Homo sapiens: one gene and its partner. The protein of the gene in region 2 purifies or fractionates together with the protein of the main gene of each other region. This does not show direct contact. Each region holds a gene or a part of one and is shown on either strand. Other genes may lie near its edges.

The links.
Region 1: the proteins of ARHGEF10 (region 2) and PTRH2 purify together in Homo sapiens (affinity purification with mass spectrometry; 3 studies listed by BioGRID and IntAct, with this or other methods). This does not show direct contact.

What each region holds. Positions count from the first base shown.
Region 1 is NC_000017.11:59,700,931-59,704,797, reverse strand, and holds part of PTRH2 (peptidyl-tRNA hydrolase 2, mitochondrial isoform b precursor), read left to right. Parts: intron 1-3,867. UniProt on the Homo sapiens protein: Peptidyl-tRNA hydrolase which releases tRNAs from the ribosome during protein synthesis. Promotes caspase-independent apoptosis by regulating the function of two transcriptional regulators, AES and TLE1.
Region 2 is NC_000008.11:1,955,619-1,959,460, forward strand, and holds the end of ARHGEF10 (rho guanine nucleotide exchange factor 10), read left to right. Parts: intron 1-1,130; coding exon 1,131-1,645; 3' UTR 1,646-3,023; downstream 3,024-3,842. UniProt on the Homo sapiens protein: May play a role in developmental myelination of peripheral nerves.

The sequences.
Region 1 (3,867 bases), on a different chromosome or scaffold from region 2:
AAAAGAATTCTCTGTCTTTGTCTCTTTTAGGGGGTGGGGGCTGTAAAGGCACTAGAACCATAAATACTATGTCTGTGCAGCCCTGTCACCGTATTTAGGCACTTGAGTGGAAGAGCACTGAAACTAGGTGCACTACAGCTTACCCTATGTGACCCTCCTACTCCTGGCCACTCCATGTCAGTCTCCTTTGATTCCTAATGTTCATTTCCTCAGGATTATGTTTTAGTCCTTTCTTCATTCTACATATTTGTCCAAGTGGCCTCATACTCTTCCATCTCTTCAGTAACTTCAATTATATGGTAAGGTCTCTCAAATCTATATTTCCAGCCCAGACCTTTCTGACTTTAAACTGATATATCCTAGACCTTTCTGTCCTTTAAGCTGATATATCCTTTTTTTTCTTCTTTCTAGATATCTCTGAGATGTCTTTTGTTCAGAACAAAACTAATTCATTATCTTTTCCATTCAAACCTGGTATTTCACCAAAATTCTCCATTTGTTCAAATCTAGCTGTCATTATTAACTTCTCCCTTTCTTTTGCCACCAGACTTCCTGTCAGTCACTAAATCAGACAGGTGTACCTTAGACACTTTTTTTATTTCTCATTCCCACTACTGTTGTCTAAATGACCATCATCTCATCTAGACTGCTGGGAGAGGCCTGATATAGTAATGTTAAGAACAAGGGCTCGGCAGGGCATGGTGGCTCACGCCTGCAATCCCAGCACTTTGGGAGGTCGAGGTGGGTGGATCACCTGAGGTCAGGAGCTCGAGACTAGCCTGGCCAACATGGTGAAACCCCATCTCTACTAAAAATACAAAAATTAGCCGGGTGTGGTAGCACATGCCTGAAGTCCCACCTACTTGGGAGGCTGAGGCAGGAGAAGCACTTGAACCCCAGAGGTGGAGGTTGCAGTGAACCAAGATTGCACCACTGCACTCCAGCCTGGCAATAGAGTGAGACTCCGTCTCCAAAAAAAAGAACAAGGGCTCGGCAGGGCATGGTGGCTCACGCCCGTAATCCCAGCACTTTGGGAGGCCGAGGTGGCTGGATCACCTGAGATCAGGAGTTTGAGACCAGCCTGGCCAACCTGGTGAAACCCCGTCTCTACTAAAAATACAAACAATTAGCTCGGTGTAGTGGCGGGTGTCTGTAATCCCAGCTATTTGGGAGGCTGAGGCAGGAGAATCACTTGAACCCAGGAGGCAGAGGTTGCAGTGAGCCGAGATTGTGCCATTGCACTCCAGCATGGGAGACAAGAACAAGACTCTGTCTCAAAAAGAAAAAAGAACAAGGGCTCTGGATTAAGACGACCACTTATGAGCTGGGTGAATTTAGGCAAGCTATAACTTGTGTACCTCATTTTTCTACATCCGAAAAATGGGGATCATAATTATATATAGATGCTTCTCAACTTAGGGTGGGGTTATATCCTGATAAACCCATCATAAATTGAAAGTACCATAAATTGAGAGCCAGGCACAGTGGCTCATGCCTGTAAATGTAGCTACATGGGAGGCTGAGGTGGGAGGGATCATATGAGGCCCAGAGTTCGAGACCAGCCTGGGCAACATAATGAAACCCCTGTGTCTTAAAAAAAAAAGTTTTTTTTTAAATTAGCAGTGTGTGGTGGTATGTGCTTGTAGTCCCAGCTACTGGGGAGGTTGAAGTGGGAGGATTGCTTGAGCTCAGGAGTTCGAGGCTGCAGTGAGCTATGATCACTCCACTGTATTCCAGCCTGGACAAAAGAGTGAAACCCTGTCTCTTAGAAAAGGAAATAGAAGTTGGAAATAAATTTAATACACCTAACCTACCAAACATGGTAGTTTAGCCTAGCCTACCTTAAAGGTGCTCAGAACACTTAATTTATTAGCGTACAATAGGGCAAAATCATCTAACATAAGGCCTACAAGTGTTGAATATCTCATGTAATTCGTTGAATACTGTACTGAAGGTGAAAAACAGAATGTTTGTATGGGTAAAGTTTCTACTGAATATGTGTTGCTTTTGAACCATTGTAAAGCCAAAAAGCTTAAGCGAAACTACAGTAAGTCCATGACCAGCTCTATTTACCTTGAAGTGCTGTTAGGCACATTAAAGAAGACAATTCCTATAGAGTGTTTAGCCAGTGTGTAGCAGAACACTTCATAAATGTTAACTATTACTACATTATAGCAGCCTCTGAAATGATCTCCCTGTATCTATTGCCAACTGCTAGTCAAGGCTCAGGTATCTTTTAGAACAGGCGTCCCTGTGGCCTGTTAGGAACTGGGCCGCACAGCAGGAGGTGAGTGGTGGGCAACTGAGTGAAGTTTTATCTGTATTTGCAGCCACTCCCCATCGCTAACATTACCTCCTGAGCTCCGTCTAATTAGCGACAGCATTAGATTCTCATGCGAGTGTGAACCCTGTTATGAACTGCCCATGCGAGGGATCTGTGTTGTGTACTTCTTATGAGAATCTAATGTCTGATGATCTGTTACTGCCTCCCATCTCACCCCCGATGGGACTGTCAAACACCTTTTTATAACATTTACCAGTCTTGCAATTATTTGTCTTCACTACTTATCTATGAACAGCTGACAGTGGCCCATATTCATCACTATATCCTCAGCTTAACAGGGTGTATGGCTGGCACATAGATAGCCAGTAAACATTTGTTTTATTGAACTTAACTTCTCTTGGTCTGAATTTCTTCATTTTTGATATGGCAGTAATCCTCACTTCTCAGTGGATCAAATAACAATACATGTCAAAGTATTGTGGAAATTTTGAGCTATAAAGACAAAGTTTTGGCCGAGCACAGTGGCTCACACCTGTAATCCCAGCACTTTGGGAGGCCGAGGTGGGCGGATCACGAGGTCAGGAGATTGAGACCATCCTGGCTAACACGGTGAAACCCTGTCTCTACTAAAAATACAAAAAAAAAAAAAAAAAATTAGCCGGGTGTGATGGTGGGTGCCTGTAGGGAGGCTGAGGCAGGAGAATGGCATGAACCCGGGAGGCGGAGCTGGCAGTGAGCTGAGATCGCGCCACTGCATGCTAGCCTGGGCGACAGAGCGAGACTCCATCTCAAATAGACAAACAAACAAACAAAAAAACCCCAAAGTTTTAAAACAGCATGAAAGAAATTCAAAATTAGGATTGGACCATTTCAAAACCATTGCTAAAATGTAAGCTTCATTAGAGAAAGGACTTTTTCTGCTTTGTGCACTCCTGTATCCCTTAGATTCTAGAACAGGGTCAATCAGTATTTGTGGAAGGGAAGCAGTATATCATAAAACTAAAAGAATTGAAAAAGTAGAAAGTAGTCACACTTCTATTTCAGATACCCATTCCTATAGCTATGTTCTTTGTAATTGTTCGTCTCCAAAATCAAAACCCTATGCATCGCTCTAAGTCTTTCCAGTTTACTTTCATTACACCTGTTCTTCAACAGCATGTCTAGATAAATAGCATGCATCACTTTATTGTCCATAAATCAGTCTTTGATAATACAGGTTGCTTTTTATCAGGTAGGCCAAAAGAGAAAAATGTAATAACACAGGTTGCATGGTCTATCATGTCAAACATTCTTACCCTTATCCTAAATTCCCTTGTACCACTGTGTCTTGGGGCGTGCTCCTGGCATAATTTAAACTTGGATACATCCAACTACCATTTCAGTAGGAGGGGAGAGCAAAGGATGAGTGTGGATGGAGGTTAGTTTGTATGTCTGGAGGAAGTGATTAGTAGTTTTAGTCTTTTGGCTTCTAAGTACTACTGGAGAAAATCACAAATAGTATGTTGCCATTAAAAAGTCATCATTAATCTTAACCATGCTTTCAATATTCCTCTGCAATCCTGCCATATTTTGCCACACCTTTT
Region 2 (3,842 bases):
GTAGCGAGGTGCTTCCTGAAAGGAGGTGCACTCTCACTGTTTCTCTGGATGGGTAGCTAGGTGCTTCCTGAAAGGACGTGCACTCACTGTGTTTCTTTGGATGGTAGCTAGGTGCTACCCATTTGCATTACACATCAAGCCTCTGTATATTTGTGTGGCTGGCTCTGCTGACATGGGCAGAAGCTCCTTCTGGGGGCTTGCCCAGGGGCAGCATCGCTGGTGTGCAGGGATCACAGGTGTGTGCTTCGCCAGGTGATGAGCGGGCCTGTCCCTGCACAGTCCCCCCAGCTCCTGCTCCCTGCAGACTTCACTTTGCCACTCTCCTCTTTGGGAAATGGACTCTCACCACGGTGGAAGATTCAGTGATGTCATTTGCCTTGGCCAGAGTAGGATGATGGTGAGGGCTGGGGCCTGTTTCATCTGAAAGCACTTGGGGAAAGGACACGTGCCCCTGTCCATATGTCATGTCACCCACAAAGCATCCAGAAGACACGCCAGGTCCACGTGATGCTTACAGAATCAGTGTGGGGGTTGCGGGGCTGTGTGTGGCTTTAAGAAGACCTGCAGGTGTTTCTGATACGATCGTGACTTTAAAATTTGAATCACATCACCTGAAAACTGAAAGTCCTAATTTTAATCAAATTATAGAGTTAAATTGTTCTGAACCCCAGAACGTTTTTGTAATGAAAAATGGCAGGCAGCCGGTAGTTTAGTCATTTCTTTCCCAAACCAACACATTTCAGGCGTTAATATTTCTAATCAAGACTTAGGAAAATTTGGGATATTTCCATAGGGTAAGTAAGAAGGTATTTTATGCAGAATGGAAAAATGACTATTTTATTACTTTGAAAAGTACAGTAGGAGTATTAGAACTGAAATAGTGCTGAGGAAAACACAACTTTCTATTTTAGAAAATCATTTTTAAAGCCTTTTTCACATTAAGTAAAAACCCAGAGGAATATAATCCAGATATTTTCATCGTAGCTTATTATTCATGTATGCAAGTTACTTACAGGCTTTGTTATTTGGGCAGGGAGGAATGCGTTGGGGTTAAGCCCTGCACTTTTTGCTTCCTTGTCTCAAATTTTGCCTATTTTAAAAGACAGCTGTTGAACTGTTTCCCTTTTCAGGAAGAGGCATGGTCTCCTACCATGCACACAACAGTCCTGTCAAATTCATCGTCCTGGCCACGGCTCTGCACGAGAAAGACAAGGACAAATCCAGGGACAGCCTGGCTCCTGGCCCCGAGCCTCAGGACGAAGACCAGAAGGACGCACTTCCGAGTGGAGGAGCTGGTTCATCTCTGAGCCAGGGTGACCCTGACGCAGCCATCTGGTTGGGAGATTCGCTGGGATCGATGACTCAGAAAAGCGACCTGTCCTCCTCATCTGGGTCCCTGAGCTTGTCTCACGGCTCCAGCTCTCTAGAGCACAGATCAGAGGACAGCACCATCTATGATCTCCTGAAGGATCCTGTCTCGCTGAGAAGCAAAGCACGCCGGGCCAAGAAAGCCAAGGCCAGCTCGGCGCTGGTGGTCTGTGGAGGGCAGGGCCACCGCCGGGTGCACAGGAAGGCCCGGCAGCCCCACCAGGAAGAGCTGGCGCCGACCGTCATGGTCTGGCAGATCCCTCTGCTGAATATATAAGCAGGACGGCCGCCTTCTGCTGTCAGAATTTGCAATCAAGGGTGACTTCTCAGCTAATCCTACAGCCTGAGTGGTTAAGCTGTGTCTACACTGGTTGGGAATAAATTAAAAACAGTATTTGGGGGAGAAACGTGCAATAGCGTAATGGTGGTGTCCCTGCCAATTCCTTCCTTCTCTTCTGTACAGCAGAAGTAATTACAAGCACTTCTCACGAAGGCAGAAGACTGATGCAATTTTCGAGTAATTGAGTGCAGTTCTGGGAAAATACCACATTCTTTTTGACTGCTGTAGTCCATATGTGAATACTAAATGTTAAACTTCATCAGCGTCAGACCTATTGTATCATATTAGAGAATTTGCAGACTAAGAATTTATGAGAAAATATATGTATTCAGTAGTGCAGGCATTTATTAACAATTCTTAAAAGTTTTACCTGATTCAGATTCACGACTTTTATTTATATTCTATATTTTTGAATTTCAGAGTAAAATTTGTTAACAATTTTAAAAGCCAGGTAACACCTACCAGTCCAGTTAGCATGATTTGCTTTCAGAAGTGAGCTGGGTTTTCCAAAGTGGTATAATGTGTGTACTGTATATTTTAACAAAGTAATATTTTTGTATTGCATTTTTCTATTAAAAAATTAACAGTTAATGTTTCAGTCAATGTATTATCTGTAGCATTTCACAAATAATGTTTGCTTTGAACCAAAATGCTCAGTGCCTATCAACATTTGGACTCAAGCATCAACACCAAATTATTCCTCCCTTCTCGTATAAATAGAGTGACTATCCACAGGAGAAAAGTGTGTGCTTTAGTATTAGAGGAGATAGGCAGAGAAGTCTTGCTTAGTTCCTTCGTGCAGCTTCTTGCCCCTGTTGACGTGGAATGCTGTGTCTGCTTTAGCACGCACGCTCCGAATGACTCCTGGTGCTAGGCCATGCTGGCTGCTGTCACTGAGCGGGACTCAGGCCAAGAGGCGTGACCTCGGGCCAGCCTGTCTGTTGTGCAGACGCCTCCTCTGCAGAACGCATCAGTTTCTATTCTGCAGTTGCAGAGCCAGCCCCGCGTGAGAACGTGCATAATGAGTGCACACCATCATGTCAAGGTGCATACTTAGTGAGCGCCATCCTGCTGAACGTGTATTTCAGTGTTTCACTTACTGGACGGATAACAAGAAAAAAATCCTAACACAGGCAGGCACCAGAAATAAATGTCTCAGCACTTTACAGATGACTAAAAATGTTAATTTTATGACTTAGCCAAATATGTTCTAGGTTGCATATATCCCCCATGTGAAAGTGATTTCTTCCCAAGCTTCTCAAACTGTTAGCTGCTGTCTGACTTCATCAATAAAGTATTTTTATTTTAAAATGCAGTAGGATGAGTTGCCTCTTTTCTGTGTCAAGTGGAAAGGGACATCAACCTCGGGGGGCTGGGTGGGGGGCTTGGCCTGCCCGTTCCTAGCTGCATCACCACTTGCTGCTTTGGGGAGACTCCGTGTCTGAATCCCAGCAACGCACCCAACTGCGTGGAGCACCGCGCTCTGAATTGGAAGTAGGCACTGGGAATCTTTCAAGCAACTCATGTACTTGTTCTTTATTTGTTTGAAGAGACAAAGTCTCCCTCTGTCGCACAGGTTGCAGTGCAGGGGCGTGATCATGGCTCACCATAACCCCCTGGGCTCCCACAGTCACTGCAGTCTCAACCTCCCAGGTTCAAGCAGTTCTCCCACCTCAGTCTCCTGAGTAGCTGGGACTACAGATGCACACAACCACACCTAACTCTTTTTTTCTTTTTAACATTTTGTAGAGATGGGGTCTCGCTATGTTGTCCAGGCTAGTGTCAAACTCCTGACCTCAAGCAGTCCTCGTGTCTGAGCCTCCCAAAGTGCTAAGTTTCCTAGTGTGAGCCAGGAGTTGGTTGGCAGAATTTTGCCACCCTTCAAGCCTCTGATGGCGGCTCTGATCTCTGCGATTCTTCCAGGAAGGCAGGATGGATTTACTAATTTGGTAGAAAAGGGGAGGGGGGTTCAGAGGCTTCCAATTGATGTTCCTAATTCAGTGGTTCTGACTTCACAGTCATGCCCAGCCTACACTTGGCCATTCCATTTTGAGTTATGAGTAGAATGAGTTTCCTGTAAAATGTTCCTATTGTGGGTGTTTTACCAGACCAGGGCCAACACCTTACATGGAGA